Linked DNA regions of Homo sapiens. The protein of the gene in region 4 purifies or fractionates together with the protein of the main gene of each other region. This does not show direct contact. Each region holds a gene or a part of one and is shown on either strand. Other genes may lie near its edges. The genes, in order: ERF, ETV3, P3H3 and OLFM4.

Region 1 (7,834 bases), on a different chromosome or scaffold from region 4:
GAGAAACCCCATCTCTACTAAAAACACAAAATTAGCCGGGCGTGGTGGCGCAAGCCTGTAATCTAGGCTACTCGGGAGGCTGAGGCAGGAGAATTGCTTGAACCTGGGAGGAAGAGGTTGCAGTGAGCTGAGATCCTGCCACTGCACTGCATCCTGGGTGACACAGGGAGACTCCATCTCAAATAAATAAAAAAAAAAATAAATAAATTTTTTGTAGAGAGAGTCTCACTCTGTTGCCCAGGCTGGTCTTGAACTCCTGGCCTCTTGAAATTCTCCTGCTTCGGCCTCCCAAAGTGCTGGGATTACATGTGTCAGACACAAACTGCAGCCAGCCTGTTTATTGCTGTTTACTCTAACTGTTGTTACAGTTGGAGTCTGTAGGGTAGAGTGCTCTTGTTATCCATGGGGCATAGAGTTCACTCTGCTAATAATTATTAACAGTATTTATTGCATACTTACTTTGCATCTCTGATTTTTCTTTTTTTCTTTTTTTTTTTTTTTTAAGACGGAGTATCGCCCTGTCACTCAGGCTGGAGTGCAATGGCATGATCTCGGCTCACTGCAACCTCCGCCTCCCGGGTTCAAATGATTCTCCTGCCTTAGCCTCCTGAGTAGCTAGGATTACAGGCGCCAGCCACCACGCCCAGCTAATTTTTGTATTTTTAATAGAGACGGGTTTTCACCATGTTGGCCAGGATGGTCTGGAACTCCTGACCTCAGGTGATCCACCTGCCTCGGCCTCACAAAGTGCTGGGATTACAGGTGTGAGCCACCTCGCCTGGCCACATCTCTGATTTTTCACAATAACTTGATCATGTAGGATCTATTAACACCTCCATTTTACAAATGAGGAAAATTGAGGCTCAAAGAGGTGAACTTGGCCAGGCGCAGTGGCTCACGCCTGTAATCCCAGCACTTTGGGAGGCCAAGGAGGGCGGATCACGAGGTCAGGAGATCGAGACCATTCTGGCTAACACGGTGAAATCCCGTCTCTACTAAAAATACACAAAATTAGCTGGGCGTGATGGCGGGTGCCTGTAGTCCCAGCTACTCGGGAGGCTGAGGCAGGAGAATGGCGTGAACCCGGGAGGCGGAGCTTACAGTGAGCCGAGATAGCGCCACTGCAGTCTGGCCTGGGCGAAAGAGCGAGACTCCATCTCAAAAAAAAAAAAAAAAAAAAAGAGGTGAACTTCGCTAGGCAGGGTGACTCACACCTGTAATTCCAGCACTCTGGGAGGCCAAGGTGGGCGGATCGTTTGAGCCCAGGAGTTGGAGACTATCCTGGTCAACACAGAGAGACCCCAACTCCACTAAAAATAAAAAAAAATTAGCTGGGTTGGCTGGGCATGGTGGCTCACGCCTGTAATCCCAGCACTTTGGGATGCTGAGGCGGGTGGATCATCTGAGGTCAGGAGTTCAAAACCAGCCTGACCAACATGGAAAAACCCCGTCTCTACTAAAAATACAAATTAGCTGGGCGTGGTGGCGCATGCCTGTAATCCTAGCTACTCGGGAGGCTGAGGCAGGAGAATTGCTTGAACCCAGGAGACGGAGGTTGCGATGTGCCAAGATGGTGTCACTGCACTCCAGCCTGGGCAAGGAGAGCAAAACTGCGTCTCAAAAAAAAAAAAAAAAAAAAAAAGCTGGGCATGGTGGTGGGCGCTTGTAATTCCAGCTACTCAGGAGGCTGAGACAGGAAAATTGCTTGAACCAGGGAGGCAGAGGTTGCAGTGGGCCAAGATCGTGCCATTGCACTTACAGCCTGGGTGACAAGAGCAAAATTCCATCTCAAAAAAAAAAAAAAGTAACTGGGCATGGTGGCATGTGTCTGTAGTCCCAGCTACTCAGGAGGCTGAAGTGGGAGAATTGCTTGAGGCAGGGAAGTCGAGGCTGTAGTGAGCCATTATTGTGCCACTGCAATCCAGCCTGGGCAACACAGTGAGACCCCCATCTCAAAAAAAAAAAAAAAAAAAAAAAGAGGTGAACTGAGTTCACTTGCCTTGTCAGAGACAAGAAGTAGCAAAGGTTGGGTGTAACAGCCAGGTGTGGTGGCTCACACATGTAATCCCAGCACTTTGGGAGGCTGAGGCTGGCGGATCACGAGGTCAGAAGATTGAGACCATCCTGGCTAACACGGTGAAACCCTGTCTCTACTAAAAATACAAAAGATTAGCCGGGCGTGGTGGGGGGCGCCTGTAGTCCCAGCTACTCAGTAGGCTGAGGCAGGAGAATGGCGTGAACCCGGGAGGCGGAGCTTGCAGTGAGCCGAGATGGGGCCACTGCACTCCACCCTGGACGACAGAGTGAGACTCCGTCTCAAAAAAAAAAAAAAAAGGTTGGGTGTAACTCATCTCTGTCTTGCTGGTGGGAGGGTAGGGGTCACTGGGTTTGTTACTGATGTGTTATCTTTTTGTTTGTTTGTTTGTTTTGAAACTGAGTTTCGCTCTTGTTGCCCAGGCTGGAGTGCAATGGCGCGATCTCAGCTCACCGCAACCAACCCCCTCCCGGGTTCAAGCGATTCTACCTTAGCCTCCCGAGCAGCTGGGATTACAGACATGCACCACCAAGCCCGGCTAATTTTTTGTATTTTTAGTAGGGACGGGGTTTCTCCATGTTGGTCAGGCTGGTCTCGAACTACAGACCTCAGGTGATCCACCTGCCTCGGCCTCCCAAAGTGCTGGGATTACAGGCGTGAGCTACCGCGCCCAGCCTTTTTATTTATTTATTTTTAGACGGAGTTTTGCTGTTACCCAGGGTGGAGTGCAGCGGAGCGATCTCGGCTCACTACAGCCTCCGCCTCCTGGATTCAAGCGATCCTCCTGGGTTCAAGCGATTCTCCTGCCTCAGCCTCCTGAGTAGCCGGGATTACAGGTGCGCCACCACGCCTGGCAAATTTCTGTACTTTTAGTAGAGATGGGGTTTCACCATGTTGGCCAGGCTGGTCTGGAACTTCTGACCTGAAGTGATCTCCCGCCTCGGCTCCCAAAGTGCTAGGTTTACAGGCGTGCGCCACTGCGCCGGGCCCTGATGTAGTATCTTTGAAAATCTGCATTTTTTTTTTTTTGGAGGGGGTAGTAAAAGAGGTAATAAAGCATAATGGTAAAGGGTAAATGTGGTGGTTTGGAATTGGTTAGATCTGGGTTCGAATCTTAGTTCCAATACTTCCTGGCTGTAAGATTTAGTGGACTGATTTTCCCTCAGAGAGCATCACTTTCTTTATCTGTAAATGGGGATAACAGCAGTAATTCCCCTCGTTGGGATTTTGTGAGGATTAAATGAGAAGATGCCCCTGACAATGCTTGGCCCGGTGCCTGGCACATCATGAACACTCGGAATTCGGGAGCTGTTATTCGAACAATGAAGATGATTATTATTGCTGGACCACACCGCTCCCAGAGGGTTACAATATCCGTGGGGGAGCTGTACTGTCCGTAGGCAAGGTTACATAATTCCCGGGGGTTGTGGGGGAAAGCTTCCCTGGAGCCCTTGGTCTCCCCAAGGAGGAGGCCTGAGACTTTTTTTTTTAGGCACTGGTGAGGAGCCTGTCTAAGGTGGACTAGGTACCCCGCAAGCGAGGAGGCTGGGATTGAAGCCCTGGGTACCGGGAGCCTGAGCTCCGCAGGCCTTCCCTATCTGTGACTTTTCTGTCTCCCCGCCCATCTTCTGGATTCGTCCCCCACCCAGCCCCCCCAACTCCCGCCCGCCACCCATACGCCCCTCCTTCGGAACCTCAGAGTCTTTTTTGAGACTCTGTTTCCAGGCTATGCCTGTGAATATTGCTTCTATTTGGCCTCTACCCTGCTGCCGGCTCCTGGGCTCCATCAGATCTGCGCTGTGATTTCCTGTTTCCCAGAGCCTCAGGCTTCATCCTTCCCTCCCGGCTGAGGCAGAGAACGGAGACTTAACACTTCTCTACGCTCTGGCTTTCGATCTTAAGCCCTGTCTTCCTCTCTCCTGGCGACCCTCAGTGCCCCTTGGGAGCACATTTGTTCAGACTTTGGTCGCCCCCTCGTATCCCGGCCCCGCCTCCGGAACCCCCGGTCCTAGTAGTGGACGTGGGGGGACCTCCGGCGCCAGCCCTATCCCCGGGACAGCTGCAGCCTGGGGACGGTGGTGGTGGGGGCTTCCAAATGCATTCTCTCTGGTCACTTCCTCCCCAGCTGGACGGGGGTTATCAGGGAAGCCAAGACCCCATCCCCACAGGAGCGGAGGGCACAGCCGCCTCCCCATTTCCGATGCTGGGAAATGCATCCCACCCATTCCACCCCACCCCTGGACAGCTGCCCCCATTCAGGCTCAGGGTTGGGGGGTTGGGTAAAACCAAGCTGGGAAATGCTGTGGTCTTCATCATCTTCTAAGGTCCTGACCCCGCCCCTCTGCAGAGAAGATTCTGCCCCCTCCCCACAAAAGTTTCTGACCCCCGCTTCCTCGGAAGGGCCCCCCGTTTTCCCATACAGGCTCCCAAAAGAAACTCTGGAGCCCGCAGTGGGCAGGAGAGGAGGAGGGGCAGCAGGTAGCGAGTGCCGAAGACTTAAGTTAGCTGCAGACTCGGAGCCTCTGACTAGGGTCATGACCCGCGGGACCCCATCCCACCCCCACCCCCTCCTTCCTCCCTCCCCCGCCGCGCGGCCCCTTTAAGCCCAGAGCCGGCCGGTCCTCAGTGGCTGCGCGCCGACGAGCGTGTGTGTGAGTGCGCGGGGAGGGGGCGGGCGCAGTGTCTCCATGGCGACGCGGCGGTGACGTCGCCGGCCGGGGGGCGTGGGCGTCCCGGCCCCGGAGTGCGATATTAACCCGGGAGGCGGCGGCGGGGAGGGGAGAGGCTCTGAGAGGCGAGGCCGGGTGAGGCGGCGAGGGCGGCCCGACGGGCGCGGGACGGGACGGGGCAGCGAGGGCGCCGGGAGCCGCGGCCCGGAATCGGGGCGCTTCGCCCCGGGCCCCCCAGCATGAAGACCCCGGCGGACACAGGTGGGGGCGGGGGCAGCACGTGTGGGGGAGACTTGTTGCCCCGGGAAACCGAACGGAGAAACTTTGGGGGGGCTGAAGGGGTCCGGGGGAGCCCGAGTGATCCCCAGTTCTGGGGGACCCCTCAAGCACTGGAGACCTGTTGCTTCTCGTGGCGCGAGCGGGGTTGCTGCCTGGGACCCCCGATTCCTGGCTCCGGGCGGAGTGGTGTGGGTGCTGCGGGTCTTGGTCCTGTATCCCTACCGGGACCCCGCAGGCCGGGCTCTCCCCCACTCCCGGGATCACGGGGGTGGCGGGGTCCTTCCCCTCCGCTCTTGTCACGTTGCACTCTGGGGGCCGGGACGTGTGCGGGGCGGGGGGGCTCGTCCACCGGGCCCGCTATCCCTGGTTCTGCGCTGCGCGGTCCTGCTGGTGACCTTCACGGCGGCGCGTGCCCTGCACCAGGTTAGCGGGGGATACGGGATGGCCTCTAGGAGGAGGGCGTGAGTGGGGAGCCCGGGACTCGGGGTCCTGGCTGCGCCGCCCCTCCCCCGCCCGCCTCTGTCGGCTCCTCGCTCCCCCGCCCTCGCCGAGTCGCAAAGTTCCAAAGCGCAGCCCGAACGTTCGAAAAAGGAACTTTTTGTTTCCGACCTTAGAACGCGCGGCTTTAAGGTGGCTCCGGGGAGACCTGGGTACCCTCCTCCCGCGCCACCGGTGGCCCGGGGTTGAGGAGGGTGGGGAAGGTGGGGGGAGACGCAGAGGCTCCCCCCTCGCCCCCCCTCCCGGATCCACCTCTTCTCTTTCAGCGGGCCGTCTCTTCCCTCCGCCCCTCTCTTCCCCGCCAACTTGCTCCTCCTTAAGGGGCCAAGGTTCCCCTCCCCCTCGGTCGGCGGGCGGGGGGCAGCGGGATTAACTCCCCCTCCCACTCGGACTTTTCCCCCTCCCCTCCCCCGCCGCCCCCGGGCTCGCGCGGGCTGGACTTTGCGCCCGAGCGCGCAGGGGGAGGGGTCCCAGCCGCCCCCTGCCCGTCTACCCCGTCGGAATCCGGCCCGGGGCGGGGACGGGGGAGGGGGAAGGGGGCCGGGCGCCGCTGTTCAAACTTGTTTCCTTCCCCCGGCGGCGGCGGCGGCGGCGGCGGCGGCTCGGGCTCCTGTGTGCGGGTGTGTGCCCCGACCGGCCCACCCACCCCACCCCATCCCCACCCCATTCCCACCCCATTCCCATCCCCATCCCCCTGCTCGGCGGGTGGGGGCGGCTTAATCTTAAAGGGCTCCGAGCTGGGATCCGGCGCCAGGGGATTGGGACCCGGACCGAGGAGGGGCCCTGGGGGTGGGGCCGGGGTGCGGAGTGCGGTAGGGTCAGTCACGTGCGTCCTACACACTCCCCCGGCTTCCACTCGCTCCCGGGTGGCTGGGCCCTGGGGGCAGCAGGAGCCTACCCTCGCCCAAGGAGGAGGCCGAGGCACCCAGACAACCTCGCTTCATCTTCTCTCCCTGCTACCGGCCTTGGCCTGATAGGATCCGCGGGTCGCTTCCCCAACCCTGTCGGGGGGCGGGACAGTGTGTGGGTTTTCCGGCTGGGGGAGGGGAGGGGAAGGAGGCCTGGAATGGCCTCCGATCGGTGCATCTTTCCCGTCTGCCTCCTGGCCTGCCGCTCCGCACCCCTCCATCCAGTTCTCCATCCCGGTCCCTCTCTCTGCCGTGGCTGTTTCCCACTTCCTGTTTTCTTCCCGGCTCTGGCGCCATAGAGGGCCGCCTGGAGTGGGGGAGGTGGTGGGGCCCCCCAGGAGGCCGGCGTGTTCTTCCTCTGCCACCACTCCTCCCTTCCGACCCTCATAGTCCCTTAAAAAAAGTTTGGGCCGTCACGTGAGGTTGGGGGGTGCCCAGGAGTTTTGTCCCCCCAGGCTTGCATAGTCTGTCTGGGAGAATCCCTACCCCGCCTCTGTGGGACCCAGGTGTGCTTCTGGGACCTCGCCATCCCAGCCCTTGCTGTCTGACTGCTGCCACTTCTGCACTCTGTCTCGCAGTCTCCTGAACCCCTCTCTCCATGTGCCTGCTCTCTCCCTGCCTCACTGGCCCCCATGTTCCCGAGGTCCCGCACCCCCAAGCTTCCTCCGTGCAGGTCTGGTGTTTCCCTGTTTTAAGCACGTGGACGCATACACAGCACACTCACACATGCTCCCCTTGCCCGTGCCTGGCTCCTGGCTCCAAGGCCTGGGGAACAGAGCCCCATTGAGACACCCTGACGTCACCCCCTCTTCATTCTCCCCCCCCCAAAGCCGGGAACAGGCCTTCATGTATGCTGTGTCCGATGAGGAAAGCCGCCGTTGTGGTGGGCTTGGGAGTGGGGAAGGGTCCCTGCCAGAAGTGGGAGCCAGGGTCCAGGCCCTGGAGGAGGGGTTGCTCAGGGAAGGGGTTTAACAAGGGGGCCTGGGACAGCTCCCAGAATGCGGCTTGAGGCCTTTCCAGAGCCCCCCCACCTCCTTTCCGAGTTCCCTTTGTGTTGCATGTAGTCTCTCTCACTCCCTCTCTTCTGCAAAGTTTATTTTTAGCCTCCTGCTCCCCCGCTCCCAGGACTGTCGCTGCACACACGTTGCCTGGTTACCGGGACACGGAGGCTGGGGCGGGTGGGCTGGGAAGGGTGGCTTTAATTTTGGGGGGAGGGTGGAAGTCAGTACATCCCCCACCCCCAGATTGATGTCTCAGGGGCTTTGGCCCCCCTTCTAGGTCTAGAGCCAGATTGGGGCTGAGGTGGAAGTAACATGGAGCTTGGTTCCCTGAGAGGGGCTGGGAGCTTTTTGGAGGGGATATGAGGGTCCATGAAGCTGGTGGCTGGGTCACCTGGGTTCCAAAGGACCCTGGGCCTTGCAGGAGACCTTGTGATCTGGATTCTC
Region 2 (7,022 bases), on a different chromosome or scaffold from region 4:
GAGAAAGGCAAGAAGATTTGTGTTCAGAAGTGTGCCCAGTGCCACACTGTGGAAAAGGGAGGCAAGCACGAGACTGGGCCTAATCTCCATGTCTCTTTGGGTGGAAGACAGGTCAGGCCACTGGATTCTCTTACACAGATGCCAATAAGAACAAAGGCATTACCTGGGGAGAGGATACCGATGGAGTATTTGGAGAATCCCAAGAAGTACATCCTTGGAACAAAAATGATCTTTGCCGACATTAAGGCAGAAAAGGGCAGACTTGATAGATTATCTCAAAAAAGCTACTAATGGATAATAATTGGACACTGCCTTATTTATTGCAAAACAGAAATGCCTCATGACTTTTTTATGTGTACCATAATTTAACAGATCTCATAAACCAGAATCCAGATCATGAATGACTGACAGATTTTTGTTGGGCAGTCCTGATTTAATTAAGACTGACTTGAGATTAGATGAATATGTTTGGCTTTTGGAATTTTAACGGTAATTCCGATTTAGTAAATGCTATCTATCACTGTTTACCCCTTCTAAATATATGACTGGACTTCATTAGTAATGTTCAACTTTTCACAAAGATGATGAATGCCATCTTAAAACTTAATGGAGAATGGTTTTATATTTAGATTTACATAACTAGTTATGTGAATATATTTAAATACTGGGGAAAGTCCTTCACTGTCTTAGAACCAAGCAAGATTCACCAGTGTTTTATGTTCATTTGCCTCTTAAAGGCAAGGGCTGAAGATAAGGCAGCAATGTCTACTTTATATTTTTGGTTTTAACAATAATAGCCAATTTAATTAGAAATCTGTATCTAAAGTGATTTCTTTTACTTATTGAAAGGCATTTTAGTGGGTTTATGTGTAATATCAAATAAAGATTTAACACTTCTCACATTTTATAGGTGATCTATAGGATCAGATGCTTTAAAAATAGTAGCAAGTTAAACTTCACTCTTGAATTCTTTACCATCTAATTCAGACTAAGTTATAATTTGGGATTGCCTCTAAACAGCCATTCAGAAACATAACACTGTAGAACTGCTGTGTATTTGTGATTGGAAATGGTGCTTTTGCCAATTTAAAAGGAATTAAGTAGAGGAAATATAAACAAATTTAAAAATTATGCATGATTATAAGACTTAAGATAATTAAAAACAAAATCACAGACTGGAAAAAAAATAAAGCCACTGATTTAATTTTAAAATTAGGAAGAACAGATGGATGACCTTGCAAATGATTTGAGTAGAGCCAAGAGGGTCCCAGGCCAAATGTATTCTTCTACTAGCTTATTACAGTGGCTACAATTCTACCCTTTTTGATTCTTTTGGATCTTGACTTTCAATTAAGAGTACATCTACTCAAAAGCAAAAAGCCACTTCTATGTATTCAGAAGAAGGAAGTATAATGTGCAGGGAAAGGTCTTGTCTCCTAAGCAACTTAGAAATGCTTGGTTAAATCTAGTTTTGTTTTGTTTTTTTTTTGGAGACAGAATCTTGCTGTCGCCCAGGCTGGAGTGCAGTGGCACCATCTCAGCTCACTGCAACCTCCGCCTCCCAGGTTCAAGCAATTCTTCTGCCTCAGCCTCTCAAGTAGCTGGGACTACAGGTGCGCACCACCATGACTGGCTGATTTTTGTATTTTTAGTAGAGACAGGGTTTCACCATATTGGTCAGGCTGGTCTTGAACACCTGACCTCGTGATCCGCCCACCTCCGCCTCCCAAAGTGCTGGGATTACAGGCGTGAGCCACTGTGCCGGCCCAAAATCTAGTTTTTTATTAAAAAAGAAAAATAAACTGGAGGATATCTCAGTCTTTACATACGTTAAGGTATACTGTAAAGGAGACATAATAAGCAGTATTTTCCTGATGTATTTAGGTGGAGTAATGGGAGGTGAGACTAGAAGCAATACTGGGAAGCATTGCTTCTAGCATTCTGGAACCCTTATCTCTGATTAACTGAAGTAGCCCTACTTTTATATGTTGAGATATCAAACCTAAGATTTTGCTTAGAAAAAAAGTTTGCTGCTAAAAAAGAAAGTTTGAATACCATTGCTTTAGAAGTCCACCTCCATGAAGTCACCATGAAATTCAAGTACTGGGGTTGAAAAAACTGGGTCTGAATCTCAGTTCTGGCAGCTTCCACCTTGTAGCCTAGTACAAGTAGCACACTGGAATCTTTGACCCCCTCTGGCAAAATGGAATTCATAAGGTCCTTGCCTAGGTTCCAATCTTGGTCCTACCACTTACTAGTTATGTGCCTCTGGACAGCTTGCCTCTCTGTGCCTCAGTTTCCTTACCTGTAAAATAGGTCAGCACAGGGCCTATTGTTATGACGATTAACAGTTAATATTTGTAAAGCCCTTAGAATAGTACCAAGCATAGCAAATTGCATGTCATTGTTAAATAATTTTTTTATTAATCATGGTACAAAATTTAAACCCTAAAAAGACAACTGTCATTCGAATACGGACTATGTATTAGATAACAGAATTATATCAATGTTAAACATCCTGGGTGTGGTAATGTTATTGTGGTTATGGAGGAGAATGTCCTTGTTCCTGGGAAATACAAGCTGAAGTACACAGGGACGAAATGTCATGATGTCTGCAACTTAATCTCAAAAGATTTAAAAAGTATATATAAATAGAAAGAGATAAAGCAAATGTGGCTACAATATTAACCATTAGTGAATCTAGATAAAGGATATATGGGTGTTTACTGTCCTTCTTCCAGTATTCCTGTAGGTTTCGAGTTTTCCCAAATAAAAATTAAAAAACTGGGGTTGGTGGGAGTAGAGAGGCATAGACTGAGCGGTATCAAGTCCATCCCTGAACTGGTCTGTCCTGCCCCATCCTGACAGTATCTTCTGTATCTTTCCAATGTTTCTTATGCAAATATAAGAAAATATTTTAATAATGTGTTATACAGGATGCTTTTCATGATAAAATACACAGACCAGAATACCCCAACTGTCTCAACCCACCTTGTGGACATGATCTCAATGGCCTCCAGGATCTAAATCCACACAGCTCTATTTAGAGTACTTATCACATTTCACATTGTATTAAACCCGGCATATCTTATCTCTCCTGCTAAACTGTAAGTTCCGTGAGGTAAAGAACTCCCATTATCTGTTGAACAAATGAATCACAACCTAGAGGAGGAATGTATGATCTATTAAATAAGGGCTAGACTTCAACAGCTCGATCTCTCAGGAATTGTTTCCCTAGAAACTGTTCAATAGATAACTATTCAACCTACCCTGATCAGTCTTTAACTTTGCTGTCGTTTTCCTAATTTTATCATTTGTAAAATGTGGATATCAAGACATTCACTTCACTGGGCTGAAAAGTTGAATAACGTAATTCACAAAACTACTAAGCAAAAGTACCTCCATAAAGCAGATGTTCAATAAATGTTACATTCCTTTGTTATCATAAAGTTACCTTAAACAACATTTGGCCTCTCTGGTCAAAAGTTCTTTAAAAACTAATGACACCAGTTCTTTGCAGTTGTCTATACCTAGGATGTGAGCAACCAGGTAGTAGAGATAGATGTACTAAAAGAAATGTACACAGTTTTGCTTTCCTTGTGCTTTATTGAGACTGAGTCTCGCTGTCGCCCAGGCTGGAGTGTAGTGGCATGATCTCAGCTCACTGCGACCTCTGCCTCCCAGGTTCAAGTGATTCTCCTGCCTTGGCCTCCTGAGTAGCTAGGACTACAGGTGACTGCCACCTGTACTTTTAGTAGACATGGGGGTTTCCCCATGTTGGCCAGGCTGGTCTTGAACTCCTGACCTCAAGTGATCTGCCGGCCTTGGCCTCCCAAAGTGTTGGGATTATAGGCATGAGCCACCTGGCCCGGCCCCTTGTGGCTTTTTGATTAGGATCTTGAGCTTGGGTTAAAGATCAATGTTGGTTCAATCGCCTTCGGGCAGAACAGGTGTGCTGGGCCACTATTGTTAGGTTTCTAGATCAGATTCTTCACAGAGTGAGGATCCAGGTTTCCTTGCCCTGGAAAACCACATTACTTCCCAGGGCTTATGAATGCCCCATTCTAGGTTGTCCAAGTGGCTGAAGTTCTGGATTTTCAATAGATAAAAATGGGTCAAAGACAGAAGAACAAGACGAATGAAACATTTTTTTGGGAGTGGGGTGAAGGGGTATGAAAACCAACAAATTCTTTAAAATTGTTGGTATATACATCTAGATTCCCAATTCCTCTAGGCATACAAGGAAGGGGCAAGAGTGAGAAACAGAGGAAGCAAGATTTGAGTGGCGAGTACAGGTCTGATTTCCTAACGCCTCTCCCTCAGGCACAAGGAAAGAAAACAGGTTGTAATTAGAGAGATGCATTCCAATACCACTTTTTTTTTTTTTTTTAAATGCATGCCCCAGGGACAGGAGGGAGTGGTTACAGAAGTTGAGATGAAACTGTAATGATAGCAGAGTCAAGCTAAAACTGCCCTAACTTGTTGTGTAGTAATTACATATCTGCAATGGATCTCAACATTATGTTCTCTCAACCACACCCCCACTAATTTTTCAGGTTTCTTCCAGCTTTTCTGAGAAGTTGTATTACTGCATGATCAGCATTCTTTGCCTTAGCATACAAGGCCACAATGACAGAGTACTTACTGATGGACTGGTCAGAAAACAGTTAAATACAATCTACAGTAGTCCTTTCTTATCTGAGGTTTTGCTTTCCACTGTTTTAGTTACCCACAAAGGTCTGAAAATAGGTCTGTACAGTACACAAAGATATTTTGAGAAAGACCACATTAAGTTTATTACAGCATATTGTTATAATTTTTCTATTTTATTATTGTCATTAATCTCTTACTGTGCCTAATTTATAAATTAAACGTTATCACAGATACATATGAGTGGGGTTAAGGGAAGAAAAAACATCATATATATGAATGGAGTTTGGTACTATCTGTGGTTTGCGAATCTACTAGGGGTCTTAGAACATATACTGCTCAGATAAGGGGAACTACTGTATTTTCTTGGGCAGGAGTATGATTTGCATAAGGAAAAAAATCACAAACAAAAAACCACACAACAACAAAGTCTTTTGAGAGACTGCTTTCAACATCAAGAGAGAATGTGGGGAGCTGTGATGGAAAGCTATAACCAGGAAAGTCAAGAGGGGAAGCCCTACTGCACTTAACAGGAGAGAAGGTCAAGTAACCCCAGAATCTTTTTCTCTGAGGATTTGCTGTTGCAGATCAAAGACACTGCTTTTCACTGCAAACATGTGAACCTCCCCCTTCTCTGATCAAGGATGCTGTGGTTTTGATGATATTCACTTGATAAGGGAGAGCTTGGTAGTTTCACAGAAAATCGGAAGTGTTTGTAGAAACAGGTTCCCATCTATGAAAGAACCACTGGGCTGGGTGTTAAAACTGAGTCCTGAACGTAAAGATCATCACAAACCTATGAAACATCATTCCCAAACAAGATAGCGTAATAGTATCTAGGAGATTACAAACAATATGCAGAAAAGGGAACCAACCAAATAAACCAAAGAAATCTATCTTGATACTGAATAGCCTATAACTCTCCTTATAAGTGAGATGACTTGAGTAAGAACATTGAGGCAATCCAAAGGATCACATTATTTTAGTGTTTCTAAAATCTTCCTAAACATGCCATGTCTTAGATTTGGATTTTTAAAAATTCTTTTCAATTCAAAATTAATTCCCTACCAAAAGAGTTTGTATCTTACCACTTGACCGAATGTTGATGAATGGGTAGTTGGGCATCACCAGCTTGTTGAAGTTAAATTTATAGGTAAATCTTTTCCCTTTTGTTTTATGAAGGATCCTCTTGTTGTAATAGTATCTGTAAAAACAGGAATACATGTCCATTCGTCTTGTAGCTACTGACAGCTTTCAATACACTTAGGTAGCCACTGAGACCAACAATTCTTGCTCTGAGTATTACTTACAAAAATCACTACCAATCTTTCGCAGCCTGGCCCTCCAGGTAGATCTAGGAGACCTAACAGCTTAATTTTCTTACTCAATTTTCAACTCAGCTCGTTTTTGCCTAGAGGTTTACAAAGACAACTTCACTTTAAGATTCTGAACACTTATCCTAGCCCCAAACATTTTCTTCTCCATCTCTCTACAATTTCGATTCTACAGTCCATTTCCGTCCGGTTGCACTGCATGTCACTAACTGCTTAGTTTTTCTTTTTGGTCTTGCCCAGGTGGGGGCAGACAAATCACTAGGGAGACCTGATGTGGTTAGTCTGGAGGCCTAAGCTCAAAAGACAGACAAAGGAATGTACAACTGTTTTATGGTGGCAGGTCAAACAATGGCATGCCCTGATCTGGAAAACAGCAGCTAGTGTGGCCCGCCTCACCTTCAAAGACTCAAAGGGATGTGAAAGAATACAGCAAAGCCACTGTACAGAGTTTACATTTCAGGTCAGGAGAACTTCAATTATCTGGAACCTTTAGTCTTACATCTATGCAGTAGCAGAGGTCATAAACTGCCTTCTAGCCCCTTGAGGGCTAAAGGACTATGAAATGTAAGACCGACAAGGGGAAAAAAGAACCTGAGAAAACTTATAGTGATCAATCTTTAGACATATTGCAGCAGGCTATGGACAACCTGAGCTCACAGACACAGTTCCGGAATAGATAGGTCAGTATCACTGAATCTTCCTCCCGTGACTTGCTTCATCCTTTTCTAAGTTTCTTTCAGGGAAGCCCAAAGAAAGAAATTCTAACAGATTCTAATAGAGAAGTCTAAACTAATCCTTTGGATTATAAATGAACTCCAATCCATGTTTCACCATATACTCTCGCCCACTACAGAGCAGAATCAGCTGTCTGTCAGGATCCAGTGCCAGCCACATTGGAATCCCCTCCTACGTATAACCAAAGATATGCCTTTTCTCCTCCTGTGCCTATGCTACTCACATTCAACAGCTCTTCTACTCCCACTTTAAAGTGACACATTATTCACTAAGATAGTGTAGTCTTTTATTACCTGATACCCT
Region 3 (7,022 bases), on a different chromosome or scaffold from region 4:
AACCTCAGAAAGGTTCAGAATCCGAGCCCCAGTCAAGGCGGCCCTGGTATCTGTGCGCCAGCCACTGTGCTCACCTCGCTGCAAAGAGGAAGGACTATTTCAAGTTCCCCAAATCCCTAGAATAGGGCCATGGAGTCCTGGAGGCACCTGCAAGCTGTGCTTCATTCACCCTTCTTTAGGAGGCGAGACAAATACTGATGGTAGGGTTGATTCGGCCACTTAGAGACCTTGCTACGGAGGAAGCAGCGGGAGGGCTGCGGAGGCGGGGAAGTGAAAGGGTTAAAAGCCCTGGCCATTTCCCTGCATTTGCCTCTGGAGCCTTCTGTTTTGAATCCTGACCCCACAGCTGGGCCCTTTGTCACACCGTCACACCCCCCACTCCACGCACCGTGACAGTGAGGGCGTTGGGCTCCGTGAAGAACAGGTCCCCACCCTGGAAGTCATCGTTGAGGTAGAGGAGTCCGCTGGGGAGGGAAAAAAGCAAGAGGCAGTGAGACCCCAACCCAGGCCCAGGCCGGCAGTGGGATGACCTTTGTCTGCCCACCTGCCTGACCACTAGAGGGGCTGCCCACCTGTAGTCCCGATAGGTGTAGGCTGGGGGCTCCCGCCAGCACTCTCCCGTGTCAGGGTCCAGGACGCAGTTGTCTGCGTGCACTGGGTGACTCAGGTCCATGCGCTGCTCTTGCTCTCCTAGGACACAAAGGGGTCTGGGGGTACCTCTGTGCCCCTGTGCCCATCTGCCACCCTGTGGGCTCAGGCCGTGCACGTCCACCCCGGGGCTCTTGGGGGCAGTGTCCTGGGGGCAGGGCCTGAGGTTGGAGAAGAGCAGTGGGGGGTCCCTGTCGTACCTTCTATGGCGCTGCGGCACACCAGGTGGGTGAAGGACAGATGCAGGGGCCGTTCCGGGGAGAAGTAGGCCTGGGTCAAGGTCCGCACCCGCTCGCTCACCTCCAGAAGCAGCTTAGCACCCTGACTGCCCACTGTCCCAGCCCGGGCCAGCTGCAGGCAGTGAAAGGCAGGGCAGAAAAGGAGGAAGGCAAGGGGAGGGTGGTCTCGGCCCTAGCCCCTGCCCAACTCTGCCGCTCTCCACCCATGGGTTTGGAGTCTGTCAGCATCCAGCTCTGTCCATCAGCCCAAACTGCTCCTTCTCTCTCCATGACAACAACCCCGGCCCCAGCTCTCAGAACATCCCTTTTCTCCACGCTGGGTCCTATCAGGTAGTCTCGGTCCCAAGAAAGCTCCTTCACAAAAGCCCAGGCCCTGGGGCCCGGCTTCCTGCACAGCCTCTCCTCCAGGTCTGGGCATCAGACGGGCCCGGGTGCCTCCTGTGCTCACCTGCGCAGCCTTAAGCACCGTGAGCCCCTCGAAGCGTTCATGGGGGGTGTGAGGGGAGCGGCGACCACGATAGCCAGACCTGGCTCCAGCCCCAGCTGCATCCTAAATAGGAAGGAGTTTACCGTGGAGTCACTCCCCCAGCCCCTCACTGTCTGCAGGGCTGCAAGACCCTCCCTCCGGCCCTCCCGCTCTCCAGAAGAAGCTAGATGCTCCCACAGTTCTGTTGTGGCTCGTCTTCCTGAGCTGCTGCTCTTTCCCAGAGAGTGCCCACCGCCACGGCTGTCCGATTGTCCCTCTCTGGTACGGGCTGGAATCCCGCTTACTAAGGGGACTGTGGAGAGAACTCGGGAGAGCTTCCTACAGCAGTAAGGGGGCCTCTGAGAGGGTAGGGACAGCTGGAAAAGTGGGGCAGAGCTGGGAACTAGGCAGGAAGGGCTTGATCATTAATCCCCGATGAGCCAAGAATAGAGGAGTCCCTCTGGAAACAGGACCCTAAGAGGAAGTTCCACAGTTAGGCCAGACTGGCGGTAGGGAGACAGCATCAGCGGGCTATCCCTCTCTGACCTCTTCCCACCTGACATGCTCTCGGAGAAACTGTGGACTCCGTGGCTCCCCCACTCCTTGATACTGAGTCACAACTACCCAGCCACCTCCGCGACCACTCTCACTACCTGGGGGTCTCCTAATATCTGGATGTCTACACTGGAATTATTCGCTTTTCTGACACCCGTTTTTTGTCTACTTTTTGAATTTGTTTAAGCACCACTATCTAGTTACGCCTGCATACAAATCTCACTTCTGAGAGACACCTAGTCACCCAAGCCGTCTAACCTGGGGTTTTTTTTTTTTTTCATTTTTTGTTTTTGAGACGGGGTCTTGCTCTATCGCCCAGGCTGGAGTGCAGTGGCGCCATCATAGCTCACTGCAATCTCCACCTCCCAGGCTCCAGAGGTCCTCCCACCTCAGCCTCCCAAGTAGGTGGGAACATATAGGCGCATAGGCCCAGCTAATTTTTTGTATTTTTGTAGAGACGGGGTTTTACCACGTTGCTCAGGCTGGCCTGGAACTCCTGGGCTCAAGCCATTCGCCTGCCTCAGCCTCCCAAAGTGCTGGGATTACAGGTGTGAGCCACCTCGCCAGCCAACGGTGGCATTCGTCAATTACTCCCCTTTTCCGGGTCTTTCTCCCACTGCATTCTACAGACTGCCACTAGAGGGCTCTACCACTCCTACAGGTGACTCCAGACCCTGCACCTGATTCCAGGTACTACAGGAATGCAAAAGTCAACCGTCCTAAAATCCTGCAACAGCTGTCTACCATACACAGATAAAGCCCAAACTCCTTGGGAGGCCACAGAAGACACTCACTGTCCCTCGGCCTTCATGTGTGGGCTCTCTCCCTCTTTCCCTATACTGTCTCTTGGTAACATACACCCTGATGATTCTATGTTCTTTTTTAATTAATTAATTAATTAATTAATTATTTAAAAAAATTTATTTTTCGAGGCGGAGTTTTGATCTTGTTGCCCAGGCTGGACTGCAATGGTGCGATCTCGGCTCACTGCGACCTCCGCCTCCTGGGTCCAAGCGATTCTCCTGCCTCAGCCTCCCCAGTAGTTGGGATTACTGGCACCTGCCACAATGCCCACTAATTTTTTTGTATTTTTAGTAAAGACCGGGTTTCACCATGTTGGCCAGGCTGGTCTTGAACTCCTGACCTCAAGTGATCCACCTGCCTTGACCTCCTAAAGTGCTGGGATTACAGGCATGAGCCACCACACCCAGCCAGTGATGATTCTGTGTTCTAAGAGCTTTATCATGTGCTAACTCATTTAATCCTCACAACGACACTATGACAAAAACACTATTATTATCCTCATTTTATAGATGAGCAAATTAGGCTCAGAGATGTTAAAATAAATTGCCCAAGATCACACAGGTAATGACTATGGAGCTGGCCCTGCTCTCACCCCTGTGCTTGACTGCAGTTCCCAGAATGCACCATGCTCTTCTCCCTCTTAGACTGATTCCACCCCCAATCGCCTGACTAACTCATCCTTAAGACTGAGCTCAAATACCACCTCTCCAGCAAGCCTTCTATAACTGCATTTCAGTGCTTCTATTTGACATACTTTTTTTTTTTTTTTTTGAGATGGAGTTTCGCTCTTGTTGCCCACGCTGGAGTGCAATGGCACGAGATCAGCTCACCACAACCTCCGCCTCCCGGGTTCAGGCGCTTCTCCTGCCTCAGCCTCCCGAGTACCTGGGATTACAGGCATGTGCCACCACGCCTGGCTAACTTTTTTGTATTTTTATTAGAGACAGGGTTTCTCCATGTTGGTCAGGCTGGTCTCGAACTCCCAGCCTCAGGTGATCCACCCACCTCGGCCTCCCAAATTGCTGGGATTACAGGCATGAGCCACCATACCCAGCCCAAAAACATACTTCTTTTACCAAACTTACCACCTGCTTATATTATGTATTTCCTTGTCTGTTTCCACCTCTACACTTGAGCTCCCAAAGGGCAGAGTCTATAATCATCTTCCTCTCCCTAGAACCTAGCAGTTTCTAGTGTATAGCAGCTACTCAGTGAGTATATTACTGAATGAGCACTAACCTAAGATAAGGGTTGAAGCTTCATAAAATGGTAGCCTCAACCTGGTGAGTATGAGTCATTCAACCTAAACTAGGAGGGAAAGAAAGGCCTGCGTGTCTGCTGAGCCATCAGCCAAGCCAGTAACTAAACTCTTGGCTAACCAAGCAATCCTTACCTGCACACTCATCCATTTTTATGCCTTCATGTTTTTTGTTTTGTTCTTCCTATCAATTTCTAGCAAAATTCATTTGTAAAGAACATCCACCTATGTCAGCTAAATTAAGACGAGACGGAACTTATCCACAGCTGAGAGGCAGTGGTAAGCACAGTCCCGGTTGGATAATCAGGACAGGCAGAATGAAGGGGGCAGGCCAAGAGCAAGGGAACAGGTGATTGTATCCAAGAGTCTTGAACGAGCTGATGAGCTTGCAGGTCTTCCTACCTTAGCCAGCTGCAGCAGCACCCCACACTCGGCTGGGGTGAGCAGCCCATCCAACACCGCCCGCTCCGACCCATTCAGCTGCCTGGAATCCTGGGTCAAGGTCACACCCTCCAGGAGAAGGACATCTGCCAGGGAAAAGACAGAGCAGAGGGGGCTGAGCATCCCCTAAGGGCAGGCAGAGCAGTAGCTGGCAGCCCCCAGACCCTCCAGGCTCCTGCCTTCTCCCTCCCAGGAACTCACCCTTCCAGTAGGTCAAGGGCTTTGGCTTCACGGGCTCATGGTCCCAAGGCCTCTTCTCTTGATCCTCTCTCAGGGGTGAGAGATGCGCTCAGTGGGTGCCCAGGACAGTCCAGACCCAGCCTCCCAGCTCGGGCCAAGCCCCTCCCACCATGGGGCATATCCTACCTGAGCTTTTCTCTAAGTGCCTCAGGGATGAGAGCTGCAGGGGTCCAGGGGTCCTGCGACAGTCCAGAAAAGCATCATCACCCACCAAGGTCAGCCCCTGGAATCCCTGACATTAGAGCTGAAATATCTCATTAAGTTTCTTCTGTTTCCAGAGAGGAAGACGGAGGTAGGAAAAGCCCGGGACTCAATGTCAGGAGCCCTGGGCAGTGGATCAAACTGTAACAACAAGTACAACTATAACTCATATAGCACTTACTATCTGCTAGGGGCTATTCTAAGAGCTTTATTCATGGAAATGGAATTTATCCTTTAAAGTTCACAACAGTCTCATGAAACAGAATATTAAAGTGCTCATTTTGTAATTGAGAGCCCTGAGACACAGAGAAGTAAAGTAACATGCTCAAGATCACACAGCTACAAATGACAGGGTTAGTTGTTTTTTGTTGTTGTTTTTTGTTTTTTGTTTTTTTGAGACGGAGTCTCACACTGTCGCCCAGGCTGGAGTGCTATGGCGCGATCTCAGCTCACTGCAACCTCCGCCTCCTGGGTTCAAGCGATTCTCCTGCCTCAGCATCCCAGGTAGCTGGGATTATAGGCGCCCGCCACCACGCCCAGCTAATTTTTTGTATTTTTAGTAGAGACAGGGTTTCACTATGTTGGCCAGGCTGGTCTTGAACTCCTGATCTGGTGATCCACCTGCCTCGGCCTCCCAAAGCAGCGTTAGGTTTTAAACTAGCTGCAGGCCGGGTTCCGGTGGCTCACGCCTGTAATCCCAGCATCTTTGGGGGTCCGAGGCGGGTGGATCACCTGAAGTCAGGAGTTCAAGACCAGCCTGGCCAACATGGTGAAACCCCATCTCTACTAAAAATACAAAAATTAGCCAGGCAAGATGGCGGGCACCTGTAATCCCAGCTACTCAGGAGGCTGAGGCAGAAGAATCGCTTGAACCTGGGAGGTGGAGGTTGCAGTGAGCCAAGATCGCACCATTGCCCTCCAGCCTGGGTGACAGAGTGAGACTCTGTCTCCAAAAATAAAAATAAAAATAAAAAAAACTAGCTTCAGAGTTCACACATTTAGCCAGTCGTTCTCAAGCAGGACACTTCTGCCCCCAGGGGTCATTAGGCAAAGTGTGGAAACATTGATTGCCATGACTCAGGGGCTGTCAATGTGCTATTGATCTCTACTGGGTAGAGACCAGGGAAGCTGCTGAACACCCTCCAAGGCATAGGACAGGCCCTGCCCTCTGCCCCAACAAAGAATTATCCAAAATGTCAGATCCAAAATATCAGTAGCGCCAGGAAGACTGAGAACGCCTGCTTGATGCCCTAGTCCTAGCCATAGATAACCTCCGCCCCGCAGTTTCCTCTCATAACTACAAGAAGAGAAATAAAAGCAGCAGTAACAGAGCTTTCTATATTTTGTTATCAAATGATGTGGTTTCAACAGCCCTGTGAAACAGATGTGATTATTCCAACTTACAGGTAAGGAAATTGAGGCAGAGGCAAGTTGAAGTTCAGAGATGTTTGGGGCAGAGGAGGACTGACATTTAGGCCTGCGTGACCCCAAAGCCGCCCTAACTACAGGCACACTGTCTCCGTCCCTGTAAAACTGGGATGGCAGACTCTTCTCCAAGCCTCATGGTGGAAAAATGGAAAACTCTGTTGCAAACCAAAGTGCCATCCCTCCTGGGAGTGCGGAGGGGTGAGATGGGCAGAAGTGGAGTGACTCACAGGATCCTTGAAGCTGGTCCCCAGGTGCTCCATGGCATAGTAGAGCTGCCTCTTCTCCCCCAGGGATCGGAGGATGAAGCGCTGGATGTCCTGAGGGTGAGATGATGAGCAGTGAGGGGTAGCTGGAGGAAGGCAGGGAAGCGCCGGCTCTAGGGCACTGCCTGGGTGCTCCATGCTCCTTGAACCTGGCACCATGCCCCCCGGTTCCTCTGTTCAACGTTCCCCCTCAGCAGCTTCAGAGCATCTGGACTTAAACTGGAAAGGGTGTAGGGGGTGGGAGTGTGTGTGAGTGTGTGGGTGTGTGTATGCATGAGTTTGGGGGCTGGTGGCAGGCAGGAGTGAAGTAAAGGCAAGAGAGACGGGGCTGAGGGCTGGAATCGGAACTCCAGGCTGCCGTGGGGAGCAGGGAGTGGAGACGGAAGTCAGATGCTGGACTTGGAGTCCTTTGGGTGACTAGAGTGCTCGGGTAAGAGGCCAGCGGGGGGTGGGGGTCCAGGTTACTTCTCAGGTCTATT
Region 4 (7,022 bases):
CATTCATATGAACTTTTCACATATATGAATCTGTAGCTTTGGGAATGCGTGGACAATGCTGACCACATGTCAGCTCCTCCTGGGAGGTGCAGTCTTGGGAGAGGCAGCCCAGCCTGCCTGGGAGCCTCCAGTCCCACATCTGGCACTTGGGGCACTTTCTGCATTTTTTTCTTCTTCTGGAAAATACAGTCATTTGCTGCATAACATTTTTGTCTATGACAGACTGCATATATGACAGTGGTCCCATGAGATTATAAATATCATATTTTTACTGTACCTTTTCTATGTTTAGATATATATGCACACACAAAAACTTACCATTGTATTATAATTGCCTACATTATTCAGTACAGTCACAGGCTGTACAGGTTTGTAGCCTGGCAATAGGCTATATCATATAGCCTGAGTGTGTAGTTGGCTACACCCTCTAGGTTTGTGTAAGTATACAATGACGTTCACCAATGTTAAAATCACCTAACGATGCATTTATCAGAACATGTCCCTGTCTTTAGCTGACCTATGGCTGTATTTTGATCTAGAAAAGTGGTTCTAAATGGAGGGAGGGCGGTAGTGGTGGTGATTTTGTCCTGGTTCTCATAACTGGGGGGTGGGCGAGTGCTATTGGCATCTAAAGACCAGGGACGCTGCTAAACATTCTATCAAGAATATGGGTCTAGCCTTGAGGAGACACGTCCTGTGTCAACATCTTTATCTCGAAGCTCCTCATCATGACAAGTCTGAGCACTAGATGGCTCATCTATGTTTTAGTTGAGCCTTTAAGCCACCAGCCTAACATTCACAGCTTCCATTTTATTTTGCTTGTTATGCACATACTATATCATTGATGAGGAATAAAATTTGTGTGAGCGTTGATTTGAGGGTGCCTGTTATTGTTCCTTATAATTAATGTGGTCTTGTAATAAATAAGGGTGTAGTGCTAGCAAGCTAAAGAATTAATCTGGTTCATGTTTCTGCCAGTCTCTCAAAACCTGTGATTATAACTATGGCCAGACTATTTGAAATAAGTACGTTTACTTTGCAACATACTACTATTTTCAATATATGTTTCAAAGTAAACGTAACAGGGTTCATTGAGCCTGGAGTGATTGTAAAGACATATAAAGTACTTTGGAGCTAGACCCAACTAGACTCAAATCTAACTTCAGTACTTAGTGGGCAAATCACTTAATTTCTTTAACCCTTAGTTTCCTGTAAACTGGGGGTAATGATACTGAGCTTACAAGATTATCATAAAGACTAGAGATAATGTACGTTAAGTGCCTAGTTAATGGAGGCCCTATGAATTATAGAAATTAATAGAGAAACAGTAATTTCAGCATTTTCCAATCTGACCTTTTAATTTATTATATTTCACTATACAAATACGGCTCAATCAATGTTATTTCTTTATGGGTTGCCTTAATGTCTCCTAGGCTGCCTCAACCTTCCCGTGCATGAGGATCTACTAGCAAATGTGTCATATTAAATAACTCATGCCAAAGACCATAAGCCTCCAGAGAAAGAGAAAATCCTGAGCTGCCTTTTGTGCCATCCCTTTCCTAAGTATAGTCACAAAAGGACATACCGTAAACAACAGAAAAGTATAAAATGCTTTCAGCATCTTATGCAGAGGCAGCTCCCTGTCTTCTCTGTGTACTGACAGACAATGAATCAATGTAAGGCAGTCAAAAACCTTTTCTACTGGCCTGTCCTAAACGGGCATTCTCCCAGGCCCCCGGATAAATGACAATTTTCAAGGCAACCTAGGGACAGCTGTAATAACTCACTTGGAAATTCGAAAGCCCTCAGCTAAAGGGATAACTTTGGATTTGAAGGCATTACTACTGCATCTCTTCCTGGGCCTACCTTGGAGGATGCTAACAGCATGGCCAAGAGGAAAGAGAGTTGAGATGATTTTGAAGACTCGAATTCTGACCTGGCTTAACCAGCCAAGAGAGGAATGACCTTGGGCAAGTCTCCTTACCTTTATGAACTGCAGTTTTACTGTCTCTAAAATGGGAGAGACAACACCTGGCCTATCTGCCTTAAAGGGTTACTTGAGAGGAGAGAATAGAACTGGAAGCATTTGAAAAAGCACAAACAAACTGCTACTATTATTGTTGTTATTATCACCTGTCACACTAAATCGATTATATAAATCCTAGCTAGCAGATAAACTTTTTTCTTAGGCCACAATCACAGTTTTTTTGGGATCAGAGCAGCCACCGACACATTCAGAACTAAAACTTTCCCACCTATTCTGCACTTCTTCCCTATCTGTCATTAGCAAAGCAGATGTTACCAGCCCCCCGTACAGTATTGGAATTAAATGTCCCATATTCACAAACCTGGCAAGCCACATACTCTCCCTGGAGCACATAAGGTTTCAAACTGCCTTTCACACTGCTGCCAGCAAAGACAACATGTAAATCAGTAGTTTCCACTATTTCAAAGCAAATGACTCTAACTGAAAAGATCTTTACCTAGGATTTTCCTCTACTTGTTATGTTTTTATGCATAACTTCTTATCTGTACTTGATTATGCTGGAATAAGGCTATGAATATTAATGGTTAGAATTTATAATTTAATGCTGTGCCTTTTCCACTGATTAATTCAAGGACATTATATTTCTTAAGCAGCTAGGTTTCTAGAGTAGTCAAACACATTTTCCTGGACACTCATTTAAACTTAGAATATTTATCTACCAATTCAGGCTGAAAGTAGGGTCTCAGCCTCATCATAATTTTTGTTTTAAAGGATAACTATGTTGGATGTTGAGGTGGCAAAGCTCAAATTTCTTAGGAAAACTTATTCTGAATCTTGCAGTAAAGCCAGAGCTCCTTGTAAATTAATGGAGTTGTATTAAATAATGCATAATGTGATTATAGACTAGCTTGGACTTCACCTGTGCAGAAAATAGGAACTTTTCTAATTGATTTTTAACTTGGGCTGAAAAGGTGGAAGGAGTCAAAACTAGAACACCAAGTCACATTGCTCCAGCCAGCCCAGAGAAAGGCAAACCCTTTAAGATAACTTCCTCTGGCTAAAGAAAAAAACAGTAATCAGAGTTCAAGTCAGTGTTTTTACCAAGGCTGAGAAACCTATTAGTCTTGATTCAAATTCCCAGGGAAGCCTTCAATTTTTGTCTAATATTGGACACATCAAATGTAATGTTCCTGCTGAGACAATAGAAGATAACCATCAAGAAAGAGATGGAGGGTGAGGATGGAAGTGGGGATAGTTAAAGGGTAAAAAATAAAAGTAGTTAGAAAGAATAAATAAGACCTAGTATTCAACAGCACAACAGGGTGACTATAGTCCATAATAATTTCATTGTACATTTTAAAATAAGTAAAAGAGTCTAATTGGATGGTTTGTAACACAAAAGATAAATGCTTGAGGGGATGGACACTCCATTTTCCATGATGTGATTATTACGCATTGCATGCCTGTCTCAGGGTATCTCATGTACCCCATTAATACATACACCTACTATACACCAAAAAAAAATAAGATTAAAAATAAAGAGACTACAACCTTGGATTTCACTTGGAGAAAATAGAAAAAAATAAAAGAGACTACAACTTATTGTCACAAAAAAAGAGAGTGAGGGGGAGAGAGAAGGAAGTGAGCAATTTGTAAAGATAAAAAAGGGTTAAAGGAAAGAGAGAGGGAGGGAGGAGGATGAGAGGGAGAGGATTTGAAGGAGTGGAAGTGGAGGAAGGGAAAAGAAGGAGGGAAAAAAAGATCATCTAAAAGTAAGAAAATACCCAAAAATGTCCCCCCCAAAAAAGAATTAACCAGGAAAGGAAAAGAGAGATTAGAAGGGATGAATAAGGGCAAGGATTGAGGCAAGAGAAATAAGAAACTAAAGGATGCAGGAATGGAATAGAAATAGAAGAAAAGGAAAAAGAGAAGGGAGATAGAATAGAACTAAAGGGGATAGAGGAGAAGAAAGAAAAGAAAGCAAAGCTTGAGGAAAGACCTAGAAGACCAAAAGGAAGAAGCAGCGTCAAAACAAAATAAAAATTGCAGGTTGGGGTTTGCAAGGAGAGCTCAAGGCTTCTTTCCAACTGCCTAAGTACCACAATACTATAGTGAGTTTATCCACGGCGTGAACAATTTGAACCCCACTTTCTTCCTGTGCTCTCATTTTCCCTGCCTTAATAAGAACTCCATTGGTGTCCTATAAAATAAATACTAAAATCACCATAGAATAAAAACGTGATGTCTTTGATAGTGAAGAATGATTGCTTATAAAATCCTAAATTAAAACACATTTTGTTTTGTTTCTCTTTATCAAGATATTGTTTGAAAAGAAAATGCTTACTTTGGAAAGTTCTTTCTCAAACTTCTGAGAAAGAACATGAGCTGTGAATTCCAAGCGTTCCACTCTGTCCACGGGAAAGGTGGTGTCTGGCAGGGAAACAGAGCACTGGCAGGTCCCACGGTCATCCACGGAGCCGGTGAAATTGGAAAACAACTGCAAATAATAACAAGTTGAACATCAATAACAAGCTGGAATCTGAGCTTTTGGCAACTGGAGTGACAGAAATTGGCTTGTCGAGAGTACTTACAGGCAAGTAAGTGGAGTCCAATACATAAATGAATAGAATCATAGAAACAAGCTAAAACAGCTTTGTTTTCACAGGTGGGGACCACCCAGCGTTTAGCCACATCGCCACTGGTTGTACGAAAACCACTACGCCAGCAGACTTTACCTAAAGGAAGATTCCCCATTCTCGAGGCTTTTTTTTTTTTTTTTTTTTTTTTTGAGACGGAGTCTCACTCTGTCGCCCAGGCTGGAGTGCAGTGGCGCGATCTCGGCTCACTGCAAGCTCCGGCTCCCGGGTTTACTCTATGCTCCTGCCTCAGCCTCCCAAGTAGCTGGGACTACAGCCCGCCACCACGCCTGGCTAATTTTTTGTATTTTCAGTAGAGACGGAGTTTCACCGTGTTAGCCAGGGTGGTCTCGATCTCCTGACCTCGTGATCCACCCACCTCGGCCTCCCAAAGTGCTGGGATTACAGGCGTGAGCCACCGCGCCCGGCCATTCTGGAGTCTTAAAGGAGATTATTCCTATCTCTATGCAAGGAAAGGGAAATAAAGAAGCTATGAGAGTGCTAAGTTTGAATTTCAATTCTAGCACTTGCTAGATGTGAAATCTCCTTAATTCTTAGTTCCTTCATCTGTAAAATAGAGATAACCTACTTCACAGGGTTGTCCTCAGTATTAACGAAGTAATGTGAGCCAAGTCCCTGGCACAGAGTAGGTGATCTGAAAATGTCACATTCTCTTTCCTTCTACTGCTCATTTTCTCTTCCTCACCTTCACCCCAACCCAATCCAATTCCTTTTCATCAGAATGAGGGAATCACCAAAGATGTGGGCTACAGTGAAAATATATGATGCAAATTCATATCCTCTCATCGCCTGGGAAATTGCAAATTAACATCCTTCAAAATGGGAACCAGCCATTTGTTAGAAAGTGAATAGCGTATGAGCTTGAAGGTTTTGTGCAATTTTTTTTAATAAAAGTTTTTTTCCAGCTTACCATTTGCAGAAAAAGTCATTTTAAAATATTTTATGTTCATTTAAGATATTCAGACTCACACTTCAGTGCCACCGCATATTTTTAAATGACACTTTTGAAAGATCCTGTTTTTCTTTTGTCCCCTTTGAACTTCCCCAAGAGGATCCCAGCACAATTAACATTTTTTTATTACTACTATTGCCTTACAGAGTAACCCTTGGCAGCCAATTTGCTGTGCCTTTTAATGATCTCATCTGAAAGCCAACCCAAAGCTCACCTGTGGAACATCAGCCTGAAGGGACTTTTTATGAAACCTCTAAGGAGACAGCAATGGTCTTCAGAGCCAGAAGTGACTCTGGCCATGTCTCTCAAAGTTCAGGTCAGCCAGCTGCAGGTGGTGTAATGGGTCCTGTGCATTTAATGGCCACCAACCTCCATAATGCCTGATCAAGCTGGGTCTAGATGCTTCTATAATGAAGACTTATTTTATCACTGGCCTCGGGGCCAATCAAGGCTTTTGCATCTAAGTTGTTTTTAATTTAATTTAAGTTTCAAGATGAGCAGAAAAAAAAAATATGTGTGTGTATCCAATCATATTTTTTATGTGTTTAGTCAAAATTTATTACCTTGGTCTCAATTTTCTTTTCCAATCACATCCCTACGTGGGAAACAGTTCAGGAGTAGGGAGGAGAAACAAGCAGATTTATGTCGAACATAGGGGTGGACAGCAGGGTTTGAATAGGGGAAGGGTCTTTGCCAGAGATGAATAAAGACTCGGTAAGATACACCAGGAACCTATCAGAGAGGCCAGCTTCCCTTGAAACCAGCTTTACTCATTTCTCCAAAGATAGAAAGACTCCAACTCAAGCATGCCAAGGCTTTTACAGAAAAGACCGACATATCAAGGACTTTTGAAGAAATAGCTTATTATAATAACAGTCTAGCAAAAAAAAAATCTTGCATTGCATTTTAACAAGGGGAGTTTAATTAGCTGCACAAACAGGGTTGGGCCATTCTCAGAGTTCTCTGAAAAATTCTGCCAACTCAGAAAACAGTGGATATCATCAAGCAATCTCTAGACAGTCAATTAGGAACCACTAGCTAACAACTTTTAGTCCTGAAGTTCACTTGAAAGACAGACAAGTAATTATGAGCCCTGCTGTCAGCCATTCCATCGGTTTCTATTGAACATCTCTGTCCCAAAGCTGTGGACTCCCCCAGCTTCCATCCTGCTTATCATCAGCCCAGCATGCTCAGCTGACATCAAAATGGTCCATAAGTTTGATCAGTGTCTCCCATTAGAGATATTTCTGCTCCTCGCATTCAAAGACAATGAAGCTAATGGTGATGAGTCTCTCTCTGCGGTGAATGCCCAAACTCTACATGAATGAAGCATGGGGGATGGGAGACAAAGACAAGAGCTTGTCCCCTTGGCCTTTGGAAGAATATGCGATTCCCCTTCTGTAGGGCAAATAGGACCCTGAGTACC

Evidence for each region.
Region 1: the proteins of OLFM4 (region 4) and ERF purify together in Homo sapiens (affinity purification with mass spectrometry; 3 studies listed by BioGRID and IntAct, with this or other methods). This does not show direct contact.
Region 2: the proteins of OLFM4 (region 4) and ETV3 purify together in Homo sapiens (affinity purification with mass spectrometry; 3 studies listed by BioGRID and IntAct, with this or other methods). This does not show direct contact.
Region 3: the proteins of OLFM4 (region 4) and P3H3 purify together in Homo sapiens (affinity purification with mass spectrometry; 3 studies listed by BioGRID and IntAct, with this or other methods). This does not show direct contact.

What each region holds. Positions count from the first base shown.
Region 1 is NC_000019.10:42,252,109-42,259,942, reverse strand, and holds the start of ERF (ETS domain-containing transcription factor ERF), read left to right. Parts: upstream 1-4,814; 5' UTR 4,815-4,943; coding exon 4,944-4,965; intron 4,966-5,307; exon of another isoform or gene 5,308-5,406; intron 5,407-6,043; exon of another isoform or gene 6,044-6,101; intron 6,102-7,834. UniProt on the Homo sapiens protein: Potent transcriptional repressor that binds to the H1 element of the Ets2 promoter. May regulate other genes involved in cellular proliferation.
Region 2 is NC_000001.11:157,128,374-157,135,395, forward strand, and holds part of ETV3 (ETS translocation variant 3), read right to left. Parts: intron 5,855-7,022; coding exon 5,739-5,854; coding exon of another isoform or gene 5,707-5,738; exon of another isoform or gene 4,772-5,706; intron 299-4,771; exon of another isoform or gene 1-298. UniProt on the Homo sapiens protein: Transcriptional repressor that contribute to growth arrest during terminal macrophage differentiation by repressing target genes involved in Ras-dependent proliferation. Represses MMP1 promoter activity.
Region 3 is NC_000012.12:6,831,400-6,838,421, reverse strand, and holds part of P3H3 (prolyl 3-hydroxylase 3 precursor), read right to left. Parts: intron 6,598-7,022; coding exon 6,508-6,597; intron 4,831-6,507; coding exon 4,778-4,830; intron 4,681-4,777; coding exon 4,613-4,680; intron 4,498-4,612; coding exon 4,373-4,497; intron 1,438-4,372; coding exon 1,336-1,437; intron 1,000-1,335; coding exon 849-999; intron 691-848; coding exon 573-690; intron 465-572; coding exon 389-464; intron 1-388. UniProt on the Homo sapiens protein: Part of a complex composed of PLOD1, P3H3 and P3H4 that catalyzes hydroxylation of lysine residues in collagen alpha chains and is required for normal assembly and cross-linkling of collagen fibrils.
Region 4 is NC_000013.11:53,031,810-53,038,831, reverse strand, and holds part of OLFM4 (olfactomedin-4 precursor), read right to left. Parts: intron 4,485-7,022; coding exon 4,332-4,484; intron 1-4,331. UniProt on the Homo sapiens protein: May promote proliferation of pancreatic cancer cells by favoring the transition from the S to G2/M phase. In myeloid leukemic cell lines, inhibits cell growth and induces cell differentiation and apoptosis.